Regions from separate parts of the Homo sapiens genome. Here region 2 is linked to region 1. The links come from fine-mapping of genetic effects on gene expression. A gene starts in region 1. The other region holds a variant in brackets. All regions are shown on one strand. Distances are from middle to middle. Region 1 holds the start of ADCK1 (aarF domain containing kinase 1). Region 2 overlaps ADCK1 (aarF domain containing kinase 1).

Evidence for each region. PIP is the estimated chance that this variant, and not a neighbour inherited with it, causes the effect.
Region 2: its variant is fine-mapped to the expression of ADCK1 in regulatory T cells (Schmiedel 2018, PIP 0.95).

Annotation. Positions count from the first base shown.
Region 1 is chr14:77,793,914-77,804,013 of GRCh38, reverse strand. ADCK1 (aarF domain containing kinase 1) reads right to left here and starts at 3,905. Exons shown (of 11, transcript NM_020421.4): 1 at 3,844-3,905. RefSeq lists enhancers at 1,069-1,908, 3,290-3,369, 3,380-3,429, 3,503-4,041, 4,042-4,580 and silencers at 3,620-3,979, 7,685-7,734, 7,745-7,794.
Region 2 is chr14:77,899,663-77,909,762 of GRCh38, reverse strand. ADCK1 (aarF domain containing kinase 1) reads right to left here. Exons shown (of 11, transcript NM_020421.4): 7 at 1,844-1,960. Among named protein-coding and RNA genes, the nearest start is that of ADCK1, 100 kb to the right of the region's middle. The variant A/G (reference allele first, on the strand shown) is at 4,717.

The DNA.
Region 1 (10,100 bases):
TATTATTACCATCCCCAGGTATAAATGAGGAAACCAAGGAGCAGAGAGGGTGAGAGATTTGTCCCAGGTGGCTCAGCTAGTAAAATGGCTAAGAGCTTGAGCAGGGCCTTCCCACTCATTCCAAGTATTCAGCCCTTCTCTTTATGACAGGTAACGTCTTTGATAGGAACACCTGGACTCCTGTTCACTAAAGTCCTTACTGCTGTTCTCAAGTAAATGCAACTGTTGCTGTGGGCAGAGACTATGATTTCTGACCCAGTGCCAGGCATGTGGGAGGCACTGTTTGGAGCCCCCAAAATCAACAGGATGTCACAAGATCAACCAATGCCTCCCACTAGAAACAAGCCATTTCAGTCTATCAAATGTTTAGGAGAGCTGCAAAGCTGACATGGCTGTTTTATTGTCAAATCAATGACAAGAATGGAATCCATCTCGCTGGACCACAGGAAACACCCCAGTAGGTTATGAAAATGAAGCAACAGGAGAGTCTGGGACGTACAAATGGGAAGCTGATGGTCACACGAAATGTCCGTCCCCTTGACAGAACTAAATGGGAAACCAAGCACTTACTGTTCATCGGAGTCAGTGACTAGCTAGGCCTTTTCAGTTTCCATCCATTGGCAGCCCTCTCCCTATGCTACATTTCAGGACTAAAGGCCTGGAATCACCTTTCCCTGTTTGGTGCACAAATGAGAATTACCACAGAGAAAAGGCACTTAGGTCTCTAGTTCCATGAAAAGTGACCATGGCCTCCTCCCATTTCCTAGAGAGACTATTATACCAATGAGCATTATTTCTTCTAGTCTGCCCCCAAAACTGAAAAAAGACCCAAAAATACCCTTGGAGAGAGTGATAGGGTCTTCAGAAGAACCTGGTCCCTGATATGGATAGAAAGCACACAAAGTGAATGATACCATCATGCCTCAAGTCTGGAAAGATGCCAAAGACACCAAGTCAATAGCAAGGGACTGTGTGAAGTTGGCCTGAGCAGGTTTACAGTCTGCCCTCCCTAAGATAGTAATGTAGTCCAGGAACCAAATTGTATTTATTTATTTATTTTGAGATGAAGTCTCATTCTGTCGCCCAGGCTGGAGTGCAGTGGCGCAATCTCGGCTCACTGCAAGCTCCGCCTCCCGGGTTCCAGCCATTCTCCTGCCTCAGCCTCCTGAGTAGCTGGGACTACAGGCACCCGGCACCACGCCCAGCTAATTTTTTTGTATTTTTTTTAGTAGAGACGGTGTTTCACCATGTTAGCCAGGATGGTCTCGATCTCCTGACCTCGTGATCCGCCCGCCTTGGCTTCCCAAAGTGCTGGGATTACAGGCGTGAGCCACCGCGCCCGGCTAGGAACCAAATTTTAATCAAACTCCCTTTCCTAGTGTTTGATGCCTAAGCACTCAAGGTCCTTAAATCAATGTTGATTAAATAAAGGAATCCCGGGAGGCTGAAGCAAGAGAATTGCTGGAACCCGAGAGGCAGAGGCTGCAGTGAGCCAAGATCGTGCCACTGCACTCCAGCCTGGGCGACAGAGCAACACTCTGTCTCAAAAAATAAAAAAAGGAATCCCTGACTGATGCCAAGGTCCCAGAATAGACAACAAAAATAATTCTCACCCAGGCAAGGAATAGAAATCCTCCATTCAGTCCATCCTAGGAAAGGCAGACTGAGGGAGAATAGGGCAAAGCCAGATGCAAAGAGCAAGCAGCAGGTAAGAGAAGAGAGTGAGCTTCCAACGGGAGAGCTACAGTACCAAGCACTTATTAGCTCATTAACTCACACAACCAGATTCCGAGGTGCATGCTATTAGAGCTTCAATCTATGGATAAGGAAGTGGTGTTTTAGAAAAGGTAGAAAACTTGGCCAAGGAGCTGGTAAGTGATGGAGGCAGAACTTGAATCCATGTATGACTGCTCCCACCAAGAGAGCAAAAAGTGCACAAGAACAAGCAGCTTGCTGGGCCCTGAAATAGGCCACTGGAGTCCCTGCAACATGGAAACCTTAACCCAGGAGGCATATTTAGTGAGTTACCCTGGTGAAGAAATGGATGGCTGACCCAACTAAATTTTTTTTTTTTAGACGGAGTCTTGCTCAGTCGCCCAGGCTGGAGTGCAGTGACACGATCTCGGCTCACTGCAGCCTCCGTCTCCCGGGTTCAAGCTGTTCTCCTCCTCAGCCTCCCAAGTAGCTGGGACTACAGGCACACACCACTACGCCCAGGTAATTTTTTTGTATTTTTGGTAGAGATGGGGTTTCACCATGTTGGCCAGGCTGGCATTGAACGCCTGACCTCAAGTGATTCGCCCACCTCAGCCTCCCAAAGTGCTGGGATTACAGGTGTGAGCCACCGCACCCGGCCCCAACTAATATTCTTACAGGTCCTTTGTCTGACAAGAAAATGACTGCATAGCAGAAAGTAAGAATATGCACACTCTTCTAGTACAGATCAAATCGCACATCCCTGAGGCCAGTTGAGAAATGGCCAAGCAAAGAATGACCCAATAAGGTAGAATATGATGTAACCAGGAAAAATGACAAGTATAGACTACATTAAAATCTGTATATAAATTAATATGGAGGGAGTTAACAGTGTACAAAGTAATATGCACATATTTACAATCACCAAAAAAGTAAAACTGGCAAATAAAGACAGAAAGACCCGTAACCAGGTGTGAAGAGATAGTGCTTTAAGTTCACAGGATTTTTTTTCCTATAAAGCAGTGGTACTCAACGTATGGTCCCCAGACCAACAGCAACTGCATCACTTGGGTGCATGTTAGAAACGCCAATTCTTGGTCCTCATACCAGACTTACAGAATCAGAAACTTTGGGGATGGGGTCCAGTACTGTGTGTTGTTACTAGCTCTCCAGGTGACTCTGGTGCATGCTAAAGTTTGAGAACCACTGTAGTAAGAAAATTATTTTATTTATTTTCCTTTTTTTCTTTTAATACAGACGGGAGTCTCACTATGTTGCCCAGCCTGGTGTTGAACTCCTGCCCTCAAGCAATCCTCCCATCTTGGCCTCCCAAAGTGCTGGGATTACAGGCATCAGCCACCACATCCAGCCCCAAGAAAATTATTAAATAAAACATATGAAGCCACAGATAAAGTCTAATTCACTTCAACTCTGCAAATATTTCTTGAGCACCTACTAAGTGCCAAGTATCATGGAGGTAAACAATAAATACTTGTTGAATGACTTTCTTGTTAGTAGAAAGTAAATGCCACTTAACCCTGGGAGAGGGCTGTTCTAGGTGTCTTATCTAAAGGTTGCTCTCCACACACACTGGCTGCTGTTAGCACATATCTACTGTGTGATCTGGAAGCCCAGGGCCCTGCAAGATGCTGGAGATAAGCAGCGGTCTGGGGCACGTTCGCAAGACCGGGTGGAGGGCCAGGATATGGGCATCGCCCCCTGCTCTTGCCCAGACCACGCTCCAGCTCCAGCTGCTTCTGCCTCGGAACTCACAGGGCCACCAGGGGGTGAAGGCGTCTGGGTGAGCCACCTCCGGCCCTCCTCCAGCTCTGCCCACTCGGGTGCCTGCAAGACTGTGCCACTGAAGTGGACAGGTCACATGAAAGCCCACTGGTGTGCCAAACTGGAGAAGTCACTGCAGGGGGGCGGGGCAATGCGAGTCACCCGAGCCACGTGGCCGCGCGCCGGGCCCAGGTGACAAGGTCATGGGGCTGTCCCTCCCGGCGCCCAGGGCGGCTGCACAACCGGAGCAGAGGCCGACTCCCGGCGTGTCCATGCCGGTTCCCTCGCGCTCCAGGCGCGGTGCGGCCCTGCCAGGCTGGTCGGCCCGAGCTCTGCGCCGGCCTCCGGCGAGCTGCCCCTACTCACCCCGAGGGAAGCAGAGCCGCGGCGCCCGGCTTCCGGCCGCAACCCGGTAGCGGGGAATTAGCTGGGAACCGTGCGGGGACAGCCACCTGACTGCGCTTAGTGAAGCCGAGGCGCGCGCGGCCTGCCGGGACTTGTAGTTCCTGGTTCCCCACGCCGCGATCCCGCGGGCAGTACTGTGGAGGCACAGGGGTCTCGGGCTTACTCCGTCAGGTGGCCTTGTTGCTTTGCCAGGGCGACGGACTTGGAATATTACTGAAATATTTTCTTCAAGACATTCTAACTACGTCCCAGGTTCGTGTTTAATGAAAGATGAAGTGGATTTGTAGATTTTTTTTTTTTGAGACTGAGTCTCGCTCTGTCGCCCAAGCAGTACAGCTAATTTTTGTATTTTTTTTAGAGATGGGGTTTCACCATGTTGGCCAAGCCGGTCTCAAACTCCTGACCTCAAATGATCCGCCCGCCCAAAGTGCTGGGATTACAAGAGTGAGCCACTGCGCCCGACCTCGTAGATTTTATTCATTCATTCATTCATTCATTCATTCATTTTGAGACAGAGTCTCACTCTGTCGCCCAAGCTGGAGTGCAGTGGCCCATCTCGCCTCACTGCAACCTCCGCCTCCCGGGTTCAAGTGATTCTCCTGCCTCAGCCTCCTGAGTAGCTGGGATTACAGGAGTGTGCTACCACGCCCTGCTAATTTTTTGTATTTTTAGGAGTGACGGGGTTTCGCCATTTTGCCCAGGCTGGTCTTGAACTCCTGAACTCAGGCAATCCACCCGCCTTGACTTCCCAAAGTGCTGGGATTACAAGCCTGAGCCACCTCACCGGGCCATAGATTTTAAATAAGATATTGGAACTAGTAGGCGAAGAAGAAATTTACTGACAATTGATGTATGCTGGCGGGGCGGTGGCTCACGCCTGTAATCCCAGCAGGCCAAGGCTAGCAGATCACCTGAGGTCGGGAGTTTGAGACCAACCTGACCAACATGGAGAAACCCCGTCCCTACTAATAATAGCAAAAATTAGCCAGGCCTAGTGGTGCATGCCTGTAATCCCAGCTACTCAGGAGGCTGAGGCACTAGAAACCCGGGAGGCAGAAGTTGCGGTGAGCCGAGGTCACGCCATTGCACTCCAGCCTAGGCAACAACAGCGAAACTCCGTCTCAAAAATAATAATAATAATGCTGGCTGGGCAGGACGCAGTAGCTCACACCTGTAATCCCAGCACTTTGGGAGGCTGAGGCGGGCAGATCACCTGAGGCTAGGGGTTGGAGACCAGCCAGGCCGACATAGTGAAACCCCATTTCTACTAAAAATAGAAAAATTAAGCCGGGTGCGGTGGCTCATTCCTGTAATCCCAGCACCTTGGGAGGCCAAGGTGGGCGGACCACTTGAGGCCGGGAATTTGAGACCAGCCTGGCCAACATAGTGAAATCTGTCTCTGCTAAAAATACAAAAATTAGCCTGGTGTGGTGGTGCACGTCTGGAATTTCAGCTACTCAGGAAGCTGAGGCAGGAGAATCGCTTGAACCCGGGAGGCGGAGGTTGCAGTGAGCTGAGATCACGCCACTGCACTCCAGCCTAGGCAACAGAGTGAGACTCTGTCTCCAAAAAGAAAAAAAAGAAAAAGAAAAATTAGCCCAGCATAGTGGCGGGCACCTGTTATCCCAACTACTCGGGAGGCTGAGGTGGGAGAATTGCTTGAACCCAGGAGGTGGAGGTTGCAGTGAGCTGAGATTGGGCCACTGCACTCCAGCCTGGGCAACAGAGCAAGACTCGTCTCAAAATAAATAAATAAATAAATATAATATGCTAGCTAATCTTAGTTATCTTTGGCCCTTATTCATTCATTCACTGATCTCCATTATCAAATGTTGACTTATAAGATGCACTTTGAAGACATGTATCAAAAACATTTCTCTTTTTTTTTTTGAGACAGGGTCTGGCTGTGTTGCCCAAGCTGGAGTGTAGAGGCTCCATCACTGTAGCCTCAACTTCCTGTCCTCAAGGTACCCTCCTGCCTCAGTCTGTGGAGTAGCTGGGACTACAAGCACATACTGCCACGCCTGGCTAAATTTTTTAAATTTTTTCTCAAGAAAAGCTGGGGGGTGTGGTCTCACTATATTGCCCAGGCTGGTCTCGAATTTCTGTGCTAAGCCATCCTCTGGCCTTGGCCTCCCAAAGTGCTGGGATTACAGGTGTGAGCCACCACGCCAGGCCTCAGACGTTTGTTTATTCTATAAACATCTCTTGAGCTATTTTTTTCATGGGGGAATTAATCTATCAGTCCAATGCAGTTCCAATCAAATTTCCAACATAATTTTTTCTGGACCTTCACAAACTAATCAAAAGTGTGTATGAAAAAACAAAGGGCAGCGCAGTGGCTCGTGCCTGTAATCCCAGCACGTTGGGAGGCTAAGGCAGGTGGATCAGTTGAGGTCAGGAGTTCATCACCAGCCTGGCCAACATGGTAAAACCCCATCTCTACTAAAATACAAAAATTAGCCAGGCATGGTGGTGCACACCTGTAATCCCAGCTACTCAGAAGGCTGTGGCAAGAGAATCCTTGAACCCGGGAGACAAATGTTGCAGTGAGCCAAGATCATACCACTGAATTCCAGCCTGGGTGACAGAGCGAGACTTTGTCTCAAAAAAAAAAAAAAATACAAAAAACAAAAAAAAACCACCACTTTAAGGCAAAGCATAGCCAAAACATTCTTGAAGAAGAAAAATGTGTTTCAAGGACGCACCCTTCCATGTCAACATGTATTATAAAGCTATACAAATTAAGACCATGTGATATTGGAATAGGGAAAGGCAGAGGGGGAAATGGAACCACCTACAGAGCCCAAACATGCAGGCATCTATGAAATGAGGTATGGCTGGAATTATAGTTCAGTGAGGGAAGATAGAGTATTCAGTACATGGGCTGGAACAACCAGTTACCTGTTGGATCCCCTATGCAAAAACTAATTCAAGGTAGGTTAAAGACTTACAGGGGAAATTAAAGCATTTTAAAATTACAACTTTTTTTTTCTTCTTACTATCGTTCCCCAAAATTATAACTTTTACAAGAAAAGAAAACATCCTTATGATCTCAGGGTAGGGTTTATTAAGTGCCATAATCACAAACTGTAAATAAAACTTTGATAAATTTAAACTACATTAAATTTAAGCACTTGTCTTTATTGAAAGACAGCATAGACTGAGCACAGTGGCTTATCCCTGTAACCACGACAGTTTGGGAGGCCAAGGCAGGAGAATCGCTTGAAGCTGGGAGTTAGAGACCAGCCTGAGCAACATAGCCAGACCCTATGAGATTACAGAAAAATTAAAAATTAGCTGGGCATGGTGGCGCATGCCTGTAGTCCCAGCTACTCTGGAGGCCAGGGAGGGAGGATCTTGAGCCCAGGAGTTCAAGGCTGCAGTGAGCTTTGATGAGTCTTGCCACTGCACTCCAGCTGGGCAACAGAGAGAGAGCTAAACCCGGTCACTAAAAAAGAAAAAAAAAGATAATTGCAGCACAGAGGTAGCAGTAGTATAGAGTTAAATAACACAGCCCCCACCATCTAAAGTTTGCAATGTATAGGCATTAAGATAAGAAGATTGATAACTTCCAAATAATGTGAGAAGTGTTAAGATTGAGGTATGAACAAAGTGGCTTAGGAACAGAAAAAAGGGAGCATTAGGCCAGGTGCAGTGGCTCACACCTGTAATCCCAGCACTTAGGGAGGCCAAGGCAGGCAGATCACTTGAGGTCAGGAATTCCAGCCCAGCCTGGCCAACATGGTGAAACCCCGTCTCTACTAAAAATACAAAACTTAGCTGGGCGTGGTGTCACACGCCTGTAGTCCCAGCTGCTCTAGAGGCTAAGGCAGGATACTCGCTTGAACCTAGGAGGCAGAGGTTGCAGTGAGCCGAGATCATGTCACTGCACTCCAGCCTGGGTGACAGAGCAAGACTCCATCTCAAAAAATAATAATAAATTAAAAATAAAATAATAATAAGGGCCAGGCACAGTGGCTCATGCCTAAAATCCCAACTACTCAGGAGGCTCACGTGGGAAGATAACTTGAGCCCAGAAGGTCAAGGGTACAGTGAGGCATGATTGCACCACCACCGCATTCCAGCCTGGGTGACAGAGAAAAACCCAGTCTAAAAAAAAAAATCACCTGGAGAGCTTTAAAAGTCTTCCTGGGCCATAGCTGGCACTAGCACCCCTTCAACTACTGGGAATGGGACTGAGTCATAGGTATTTTGTAGAGCTCCCTGTAGGATTTCAATGCACAGCTGAGGTTAAAAACCCCGATTTAGAGTCAAAGAATCTTATTTGAACTGGGTGACTCACAGCAGGTTTTCTAATTTTGGCAGAGCTTTAGTTTCTGTCTTGATAAAATGGAGTTAATACTATTGTCAGTCCTATCTACCTCAAAGGGCTTGTGAGGATCAAGTGCAATGGTGCAAGTGCTTTGGAAGCTGAATGTTGCTGTTCAGAGGAGTGTCATGACACTGAGAAGAAAATCCAAACTCTTTGCCTGATGTGGGGAAAAGCAAGAGAGATCAGATTGTTACTGTGTCTGTGTAGAAAGAAATAGACATGGGAGACTCCATTTTGTTATGTACTAAGAAAAATTCTTCTGCCTTGAGATTCTGTGACCTTACCCCTAACCCCGTGCTCTCTGAAACATGTGCTGTGTCAAACTCAGGGTTAAATGGATTAAGGGCGGTGCAAGATGTGCTTTGTTAAACAGATGCTTGAAGGCAGCATGCTCCTTAAGAGTCATCACCACTCCCTAATCTCAAGTACCCAGGGACACAAAAACTGCGGAAGGCCGCAGGGACCTCTGCCTAGGAAAGCCAGGTATTGTCCAAGTTTTCTCCCCATGTGATAGTCTGAAATATGGCCTCGTGGGAAGGGAAAGACCTGACCGTCCCCCAGCCCAACTCCTGTAAAGGGTCTGTGCTGAGGAGGATTAGTATAAGAGGAAGGCATGCCTCTTGCAGTTGAGACAAGAGGAAGGCATCTGTCTCCTGCCCGTCCCTGGGCAATGGAATGTCTCGGTATAAAACCCGATTGTACGTTCCATCTACTGAGATAGGGGAAAAGCGCCTTAGGGCTGGAGGTGGGACATGCGGGCAGCAATACTGCTTTGTAAAGCATTGAGATGTTTATGTGTATGCATATCTAAAAGCACAGCACTTAATCCTTTACCTTGTCTATGATGCAAAGACCTTTGTTCACGTGTTTGTCTGCTGACCCTCTCCCCACTATTGTCTTGTGACCCTGACACATCCCCCTCTCGGAGAAACACCCACGAATGATCAATAAATACTAAGAAAACTCAGAGGCTGGCGGGATCCTCCATATGCTGAACGCTGGTCCCCAGGGTCCCCTTATTTCTTTCTCTATACTTTGTCTCTGTGTCTTTTTCTTTTCCAAGTCTCTCGTTCCACCTTACGAGAAACACCCACAGGTGTGGAGGGGCAACCCACCCCTTCAGCCTGACCCTCCTGGCTCCCCAGAGGCTGGCTCCACTCCCTCTCTCCAGCCTCATTTCCCACCCTTCTCTTCCCTGGCTCACTCCACTCCAACCGCATCAGCTTCCTTTCTGTTCTCAATCTGCCAAGCTGGCTGCTATCTGGGCAGCCGTTACACTTGCTATTCCCCCATATCTTCAATGGTCTGCTCCATCCTGGCAATTTGTTCTCTGCTAATGTTACTCTCCAGAGAGGTCATCCCCAATTACCCCTATCTCCCCACTCACCCCCACATTCCCTGAGACACACTCTACCTCCTTACACTGTTTTATTTATAAAATTTATTTAAAATCACTTATCAATACTTGAATTTTGTGGGGAGGGGGCAGTTTGGTACAGATGTTCTTTATCTTGGTGGACCTTATGTCCGAATATAAATGATTAAAGCTCAGATCATTTCTTCTTCATGTCTTCCCATGTTACAACAGTGGTACAGGCTTAATGTGAAGACTCAAACTTGCTTTGTTGTTGTTGTTGTTGTTGTTATTGTTGTTTTTGAGACCGAGTCTCATTCTGTCACCCAGGCTGGAGTGCAACGGCACCATCTCGGCTCACTGCAACCTCTGCCTCCCCGGTTCAAGCGATTCTCCTGCCTCAGCCTCTCAAGTAGCTGGGATCACAGACACCTGCCACCACGCCCGCCTGATTTTTTGTATTTTTAGTAGAGACAGGGTTTCGCCATGTTGGCCAGGCTGGTCTCAAACTCCTGGCCTCAAATGATC
Region 2 (10,100 bases), 110 kb before region 1:
AATATAAGGAAATCAACAACCACCACCCAGCTACTCTTCTGGAATGCTAGCCACACACCAGGCACTGTGCTTAGCACTGTTTGCACCCTAACTCACATAGTCTTCACAGCCCCTCTTAGAGGCAGATACTGACCCCATTTACAGCAGTCACATGGCCACCAGGAGGCCTGTGCAACCACCACACTCCCCTGCCACCCCCCTGGGCTCATCTGCTGAGCCAAGGTATGGCTTTCTCCTGTGGGCCAACTCCCCATTGGGACCACATGCTCACGCTCATCTTCATGCACTGCCTGTGGACATGGGGAGTGGAATAGAAAAGAGCATTCACAGCCAGGCGCGGTGGCTCACGCCTGTAATCCCAGCACTTTGGGAGATCGAGGCAGGCGGATCACCCGAGGTCAGGAGTTCAAGACCAGCCTGACCAATATGGAGAAACCCTGTCTCTACTAAAAATACAAAATTAGCCAGGCATGGTAGCGCATGCCTGTAATCCCAGCTACTTGGGAGGCTGAGGCAGGAGAATCACTTGAACCCAGGAGGCGGAGGTTGCAGTGAGCCAAGATTGCGCCATTGCACTCCAGCCTAGGCAACAAGAGCAAAACTCCGTCTCAGGGAAAAAAAAAAAAAAAAAAAAAGCATTTACCTCCACTGGGCGTGGCCCACTTCCTTCCTTCCATCCCAGAGGGCAGAACATGTTGCTGCACTCCCCAAAACCCTGAAGTGACTCCACAGTGCCTCAAGGTCACACCCAAGACCATTACTTTATCTCCCCACACACCCCAAGGAATCCTGCCCCAGCCCTGCCAAACTTCACCCATTCCCTTCCCCTTCTTGCAAAGCCACTCCCTGGAAAACTCCTACTCATCCTGCTGGGGACACCAACCTGTGGCAGGCCTCAGTGCCTCTTCCTCACTCTCCCTGGGGTTCTCCTCACACCCTCTCGCTGCCTGAGATACAGCAAGGATTTAGATGTGTGTCTGACTCTGATGCTAAGCTCTGGGGACTAGGTCTGGTCCCCCTGCGAGCCCCCATACCTAGCATATAGCAGACACTATTAAAATGATCAATGTTGAGCCTGGCCACGTGGCTCACACCTGTAATGCCAGCACTTTGAGAGGCCAAAGTGGGAGGACTGCTTGAGCCCAGGAGTTCCAGATTACAGTGAACTATGATTGTGCCACTGCACGCCAGTCTAGGCAACAGAGCAAGACCCCATCTCTAAAAACATAAAAATGAAATTATGAATGTTGTTGAAAAAGTACAACTCCACCCATTCCTGTGGGACCCTGTGCAACCAAGAAGCAGAAAGTGAGGGACAGGTCCTACCCACTGGCCAGTATTCCCTGGGACAAGGGGGATGGGAGGGGGGACACACAAAGCCCACCTCTTTTTTCCTGCTCTAGGAGGCTGATGCAGTTGGTTGCTGCTGTCCCCTTTTTGCCTGATCCCTTGAGATCTGGGAAGTGGGAAGGAGAGAGAAGGGCAGGAAGAGGGAAGAGACAACAGACAGGCCCCACAGAGCCAAAAGGATTAAGTCCCACTGATTTTGCATCATTGTTCTCTGTGGCCGCTTAGCTTTGTGGGGCTCAGATGGTACAAAGGAAAAGCAGGTAATGGCAGAAGGGGTTCAGCATGTCCCTGCAGGCCGCTGTGTGCACAGGGCTGGCCTAAATGACCTGAAAGAATCTTTCTTGCTCAAAGTTTATAATTCTCCAGACAATGGGCCCTATTAAAGACAAGGGGGCCAGACTCTGAGGCCTCACCTGGACACACAGGCACTTCCTGGGCAGCCTTGACCAAGCCCACGTTCCCCGGCACAGCAGCCCTGAGCTCTTGACCTCACCTCATTGACGTCGATCTTGTTCCTCTCCATGTAGTCTCTGTCATTGACCTGCCCGCCATCCACAAACTCCATCAGGAGGACCCGCTCCGTGGACAGGTCCCAGTGGATTCGGGGGACCTGGGATAGGAAGGGACAGGTCAGATGGTCTGGGGAAGCTGGGAATCGGGCAAGGATGACAATGTGGCACAGCGAGCCAGACAGCAACAGAGGCTCCTCCCAGAGCAAGGGAGAAGAGGCCCAGGAGGGACCTCAGCGGTGACAGTGGGGATGGGACAGCCAGGCCAAGAGGGAGGCTGGCTACTCCACCTCTGCTCAGCAGGCCTCCGCCCACTCCTTTAGATACCGGCTTTGCCAACTCTCCTCAGTGCCTTCTAATGCTGTTAAGAGCCAAAACTAAAGTTGGGACTTGGGAGGAAAATGTTGGAACACCTCACACCTGGGCATTGCTGTTAAGGATATTTCCTCTCCCCATCCCGCCACCAGGCCTACTTCGGACTCCTCCCTCTGCCTCCAATATTTCACCCAGGTAATGGGTGCATTGTGTGTATTGAGCAAATGACTGAGTTTTAACCAGATGATAAATTTTGTTTCTCATGCCTGTTTCCTGTAGGAAAACACGTTTCCTGGGGCAGACAACATTGGATATTAACCCAACATCTATTCCCAACCCTCCTCTTCCCTAGAGATGAAAAAAACTAAATACTGGGGCCAGGCGGAGTGGCTCACACCTATAATCCCAGCACTTTGGGAGGCTGGGGCAGGTGGATTGCTTGAGCTCAGAAGTTCAAGACCAGCCTGGGCAACGTGGCGAAACCCTGTCTCTACAGTAAATACAAAAATTAGCCAGGCATAGTGGTGCGTGCCTGTGATCCCAGCTTGGGAGGCTAAGGTGGGAGGATCGCTGTCAAAGCCAGTGTGCTGTGACCTTATACATCACACCACTGCACTCCAGCCTGGGCAACAGAGCAAGATCCTGTCTGAAAACAAACAAACAAATAAAAAACCTAAATACTTTCCTTGCCTGCTTTATAGTAGGTATGGCCATGTGACATAGTTCTGACTTATGAACAAAAATGGAAACCTGCTAGGGGATTCTGGGAAGGTTTTTATTTCCTTGATTTAAAAAAAAGGGGGTATTTGCATAGTGCTACTCTTCTTCCACTTCTCTTCTTGCCTCGAAAGTGAATGTGAATGTGACTGTTGGTGCTGTAGCAGCCATCTTGCAACAATGAGGAAAAATAAAAAAATTTAAAAATCTGAGAAGCCAGCTCTGGTACTGTTAAACCACCAAAACCATATGTCAGTAGGCAACCACTGCAAACCTTCTTGCTATGTGAAGACAACAAATTCTTTTGTTTAAGGCACTCTAAATGAGGCTTTCAGTTGCCTACAGACAAATGCATTACTAACATACACTCTCCAACCCTCTCTGACTCTCATAACACTCAAAAACCAAAAAGAGAACAGATTTCTCCAGGAGCGGGCAAGAGACTAGAATGCAACCAGGCTGCCATGTGAGCAAGGGACACCCACCAGTACCCCCACAGCCAGGAGGGAGGGGTTACTGGGCTTCCAGCATGCCGAGTTTCCCCCAAATTGTGAGGAGTTTATTTCCTCTTACAAATAAAGAAACATGGGCAGCTTTTTCAAATGTTTTGGAGAGTAAGATTTTCCTTTACCCTGACCACCCAAATTCATCTAGCAATAACATAGTGGCCCTCAAGTCAACAGACCTATTTCCTGTTCCTAATTCTGCTAATACTGTTGTGTCTTAGACTAGCCACTTAACTTCTTTACATCCCAGTCTTCCTCACTGGAAAGCAGAATTGTTTCTGCCCTATCTCAGTAAGGACCTCTGAGGATAAATGGGGGCTGTACATACAAGTGAAATGCTCTAGTTGGAACAAAGTTTCCACCAGAAAGCAAGGTGTTATTTTGGTTTGCTGCTTGACTGCGGTTTCTGCCATTTGAAAATCTGGGCCAATAGAGAAATCTGTGAAACTGATACTTTGAACTTAAAATTTAGACTTGCTTGGCATTTTTCAAAAAGTTTCTTTTTAAAAAAGTGAGTGCATGTTTGCTATTGTTGCTTTGTCGGTTTCTTTAGAGACAGGGTCTCATTCTGTCACCCAGGCTGGAATGCTGTGGCATCATCATAGCGCACTGCAGCCTCGAACTCCTGGACTCAAGAGATCCTCCTGCCTCAGCCTCTCAAAGTGCTGGGATTACAGGCGTGAGCCACCGTGCCCTGCCTGTTGTTTTTGTTCATGGCTTCCAAATGAATGGGACATATTTTCGGGTTAAATTCTTCCCTTGGGTTTGTTTGTAAACCTACCTTTGACAGTGGGCCCCTAAGGCTCTGGAGACAAGAGGTCAAATCTCTAGCCAGCCCCACCAGAGGCAGCTTAAAAAACAGCGAGGGGCTGGGCGCAGTGGCTCACGCCTGTAATCCCAGCACTTTGAGAGGCCAAGGAGGGCAGATCACTGAGGCTGAGGAAAGAGAATCGCTAGAACCTGGGAGACGGAGGTTGCAGTGGGTGAAGAATACGCCACTGTACTCCAGCCACGGTGACAGAGGGAGTGAGATTCCATCTCAAAAAAAAAAAAAAAAAAAACCAGCTAGGAAAGAGTCACAGGTGGAAACAGAAATCCCACAGGCTGGAGCTTCTCTGTGCTTGTGCATCAGGGTCCTGGGTGTACTGCGGTTTCCCCCTTTTTGGTCTCCCTGCAAACATCACCATTCCAGTCTAACCACAGAATGTGCCCCTTGCTTCTGCTGCTTAAATCTGAAATGACTAAAATATCAAACCTGGGAAACAGTGGAATTTGTCATGGGAGCTTCAGAACCACAGGTGCCCCTGGACAGACATAAC[A/G]TGGAAATGACTGCAAAATGCCAAACTGCTCCTGCTCAGTTAAAAAAGTGAGCTGCGCCTAAATCACCAGATGGGCAGGAGGACCTGGGGGTGTGGGGTGAAGTGAGCGCCCACATTTCCTGTCCTATGCTTCTTCCATCAAAGAAGGAAAAAATGAAAAAGAGAAATTTGAAAGAGTCAATAAGCACCCCGCACTCCCCCATCCCACCCCCAAACAAAGCAAGCTGAAACTCTAAGGAGCTCATGGCCAGGGTGCTCAGCGGCCCCACCAGCAGGGTCACACCCTGACCATTAGGACCCCTGGGTCCAGGTTCTACCTCTTTGCCACAGAGCAGAGGCCTCCCTCCTGTGGGCTCCTCCTGCCTCCCACACGGATGCCAATCTGGACCCCAAGAAGGAGGGCACCAATTAGAGAAGTTTTAGCCCAAGACCCTGGGCCTCAGCCTCACAGTCTGGCCCTGACCTCACATTTCTGCTTTGTTTCTATGCTTTGGTCAACATGCCCACGAAACAGGCTGCGCCTGGCTTGTCTGAGACAGTGCCCATCACCCTAGGCCCACAGTCCTCCTGGAGCCTGAGTCCAGCACAGCAGAAGGCCTGGAGACATGCAGTCAGACCGGCAGATTTGGAGTCAGGCTGCTGGCTGGAGCCCCGGCTCTGCCACCTAAAAGCTGTGTGACTGTGGGTAAGTTATATAACCTCTCTGAACACCAGTTTCTCCACCAAAAATATGGTGATAATGGTTACAGTGGAAGCACAACCCCACCTCCGCCCCCATTTCCCACTACTATGAGCAGAGTACTGGCACTCAACATGGAACCAGACACTAGCAGCTGCTGGAAAAAACATCGATTGCTCTTAGGACAGCCACATCGAGTTTCACAGAGGGCTCTGATACACACCAGGGCTGAGAGTTATGCTCTAGACGGTTCACTGGAATTCACAACTTCCCCACAGAGCAAAACCATATGGAGGGTGAACATGCAGGCTCTGGAGCAGGCTACCTCTATTCCCTCCCCTTAGTGGTAAGCCTTGTGACCCTGCCCAAAGGGTTGATAGCTCTGAGCCTCAGTCTCCCAACTGATGATATGGGGGTGATTATGGCACCTCCCTTGTGAGGCTGTTGTAAGAATTAAAGAATTAAAGAATATAAATCACTCTGCAAAAAAGAAGTTATATATTAATTACTATCCATCTGTAGTTCCTAATCTTTGAGATTCATGGGAAGTTATCATACTTCCCAAAAAGCATGCACATCTCCTCAGGGTTTGTCCACAATTTCTAGAGTCCTGGGCTCCTTACCTCACACTAAGGAACCCTGGCATGGCCCTGCACACCTATCCCCACCTCCACACATACAGAAATGGTCTCATCACTTCCAGTCCCAAACCCTGTGGTTATAAAGCTTCTCCCCTGCCACCTTGTCCCCAGGTGAGTCACAAACCCTACCACTTGTCCTGTTTCCATCCCCTGGCACATACGCTCTGCTGCCAGATCCACTAAGCCTGGCCTTAATCATTCAGCCTAGCTGCCCCCTCACCCTCTCCCAGTCCCCCTGACGCCATATTTGCATTCAGTGCTTGTCTGAGCCTGGGAGATTTATAGCACAGGGCTGAGGTTCTTAAACCGCACATAAGCACCGGAAGATGCCTCACACACTGAGAGGTAAAGTCTTTGCGGAGGCTTAATTATGCACAGATGTTGTGATCGGGAGCCAGTGTGCAAAAGCAGTCTATCTCCAGTTTTAAGAGCTGAACTGGGTTCACAGTGCAAAATTCACTTCCCCCTTGTTATGTGTTTAGGCAAAATTAATTACTCAAGAGCCTTAATTCCACCACTGTCTTAGGAAGGGTGTGCAAGTTTTGGAAACAGCAGGTCAAATTGGTATATTCATTATTTACCCATTTGGCATCTTCATTTGAAAAATGTGTGTTATTGTTATTATTGCATGTCTTGGTCTGGCACTTGCCAGTTGGCCCCAGCCAGGGGACAATTTTGCTGTTTCCATGGGAACAGTAGAGGAGATGGTTCTGTCTGGCTCATAGTTCTGGCTCTGAGGGGCACCCCTGCCGGTAAATGGCAGCAGAGTATCCTGAGAGGAGCACCACACTTGAAGTCAGAAAATCTGGGATGTTGCCCTAGCTCCTCTACTCAAACTGTCCTCTGCAATATGGGCTGATGCCTGCTGGAAGGACTCAACACCATAGTACCTGCAGACTGTTCAATGCAGCAGCTCCTGATGAAGAAGAAATAATCAATATATATTGCCTATAGTCAATACTTCTTAGAAGCACTCACCAGAGCCCTTTATCCTGGGTAGAATTACGTACTTCCTCTTGGGAATCCACAGAAACACAGATGAATGCCTGTCATGGTGCTAACAAACCTGCACTGCAACAACACATTGCTGTGTCTGTCCCTCCACTAGATGAGAAGTTTTCCAGAGCAGGGACAAACCTCAGCTCCCAGCACAGCAACAAGCTTGGGAATAAAAGAAATGGAATAAGCAAGTAGAAGCATGTATTAGACTCTATAGCATTATGCTAATTAGTTAACATTATCACTTGTCTCAAAGAGCCAAGTTTTCACTGAACTGGTGGTTTGAGCTCCAAGGCTGGGGCAGTGACACCAGATCTAGGCTGCACTCCTGGATTTACACACACAAGAGGGTCTGTACATCCACACCGACAATGGCAGCCAACAAAATGCCAGTCAAGCATACTGGGAGTATGGAGACGTACCCAACCCTCACCACACACAAAGAGCTAAACTTCATGGGTTCTATCTTCCACCACAGTCAATGTGTCAATACACTGCACTGATCAACACAGCTGCGGTTCTTCCTCCTGCGGATTCTCAAGTGGTTAGAATAGACACATCTTCAGTCATTCCATCCCTGTTAGTCAATCAGGAGAGCAAAAATATAGACACTTCCTCCATTTCTCATGATGTCTTCAAAAGCCAAAAGGACACCTTAGGGAAGAATGAGAGAGTCCCTTTTCCCTGATCCAATGTTCTGAGCCATCCTCCCCAAGAACAGCACAGCTTGACTGTTGGCTCTAGAACCTGCACATGGAGCTCCTGAGGGCTTGGTGACCCCTCTCGTGCATTCTCCAGGCCTGGTAAAGAAGAGGGAAGGGTGATCCATCCTAGAGTTGGAAGCTAAGCTCAGTGTAGACAACCAGAAGAGCCCTCCAAGCCCTGCACTGTTGGGATAAAGGGGGTAACCCTGTTTTAATAGGCATACACCTCAGGAAGGACAAATGTGTTGGAAGAACAGTGGTGTAGCATACATCTCTCTCCCCAGTTCCTGTGTGCTCTGAGAGAACACCAGGATGGTCCTTAAAGACCAGCTCCGGCCGGCCGCGGTGGCTCACGCCTATAATCCCAGCACTTTGGGAGGCCGAGGCAGGCGGATCATTTGAGGTCAGGAGTTTGAGACCAGCCTGGCCAAAATGGCAAAACCGTGTCTCTACTAAAAATACAAAAATTAGCCAGGTGTGGTGGCACACACCTGTAGTCCTAGCTACTCAGGAGGCTGAGGCAGGAGAATCGCCTGAACCCGGGAGGTGGAGGTTGCAGTGAGCAGAGATTGCACCACTACGCACCAGCCTGGGTGACAGAGTGAGACTCTGACTCAGAAAAATCATAATAATAAAATAATTAATTAAAAAAAAAAAAAAAGGACCAGCTCCAGGGCCAGGAGCAGTGGCTCACACCTGTAATCTCAGCACTTTGGGAGGCCAAAGTGGGCAAATCATTTGAGGTCGGGAGTTCAAGACTAGCCTGACAACATGGTGAAACCCCATCTCTACTAAAAAAAAAAATACAAATATTAGTAAGGCATGGTGGCACATGCCTATGATCCCAGCTACTTGGGAGACTGAGACAGGAGAATTACTTGAACCCAGGAGGCGGAGACTGCAGTGAGCTGAGATCGCGCCACTGCACTCCAGTCTGGGCAACAGAGCGAGACTCTGTCTCAAAAAAAAAAAAAAAAAGAACACCAACTCTAGTGCCAACTTCTCAGCAGAGCCTGCCCTGACCCAGTAGGCCATGGGAGTCCCTACTTCTGAATCCTCAGAGCATGTAGAAGCCGTACTTCTCATGGGGCACTGACAGCTGCGACTTCATATTATCTGATATTGTTTCCCACATTAAGTGTCTCTTATTACATAGAACAGTTCTGCTATAATACTTGTTTTGAAAACACAAATTTGTTCCAATGCAATTGATATGTTAGGGAATAGTTTGATCATAATGCAAATTTTGGATGTGCTTATGTGTACTATCATCTGCGAGAAACACTGTGAATGCAGAAAGCTGCATCCAGCAGAGCCGTGCCACATTGGAATACACAAAACAAACACACCTCGACATCGCTGCGAGTCGGTGAGTCACCCACATCTGGCCTTACAACTTTCTGTCCCATTTCTTTTTTGTTGTTGTTGTTGTTCCTTGAGACGCAGTCTCGCTCTGTTGCCCAGGCTGCAATGCAATGGCATGATCTCAGCTCACTACAACGTCTGCCTCCTGGGTCCAAGCGATTCTCCTGTCTCAGCCTCCCGAGTAGCTGAGATTACAGGAGTGCACCACCATGCCCAGCTACTTTTTGTATTTTTAGTAGAGACAGGGTTTCACCATGTTGGCCAGGCTGGTCTTGAACTCCTTCCCTCAAGTGATCTGCCCACCTCCGCCTCCCAAAGAACTGCGATTACTGCCATCAGCCACCATGCCCAGCCTCCGTCCCATTTCAAAGGACTCCTCCCACCACCCCACAAAACTAACAAGCAGCAACCCTTCTGATGCCCACTTCCACAGCAGGCTCAAGGTAAAGTGCCATGTGTATTGTGGTCTTATGTATTTCTTAGCCATTTAACATGTGTAAAACTATGCTACTGGTTTTTATTCATTCCTATCTTCTTTTCTTTCCTATATTACTGTATTACTGATGAATTTTCTTTTTTTTTTTTTTTGAGACGGAGTTTCACTCTTGTTGCCCAGACCTGAATGCAGTGGCGTGATCTCAGCTCACTGCAATCTCCACCTCCCGGGTTCAAGTGATTCTCTTGCTTCAGCCTCCCAAACAGCTGAGATTACAGGCACATGCCACCACGCCAGGCTAATTTTTATATTTTTAGTAGAGACGAGGTTTCACCATGTTGGCCAGGCTGGTCTCGAACTCCTGACCTCAGGTGATCCACCTGCCTCAGCCTCCCAAAGTGCTGGGATTACAGGTGTGAGCCACTGTGCCCAGCCACTGATGAATTTTTTTGAGTGTTGTGCCCCTAACTCTATTTTCCCCATAAGCTCTGTGGTTTCTCTTATGTGATTTTCCATAACTGCAGTATTTCTAGGGACACATATGTTTTGTTACAGAAGAA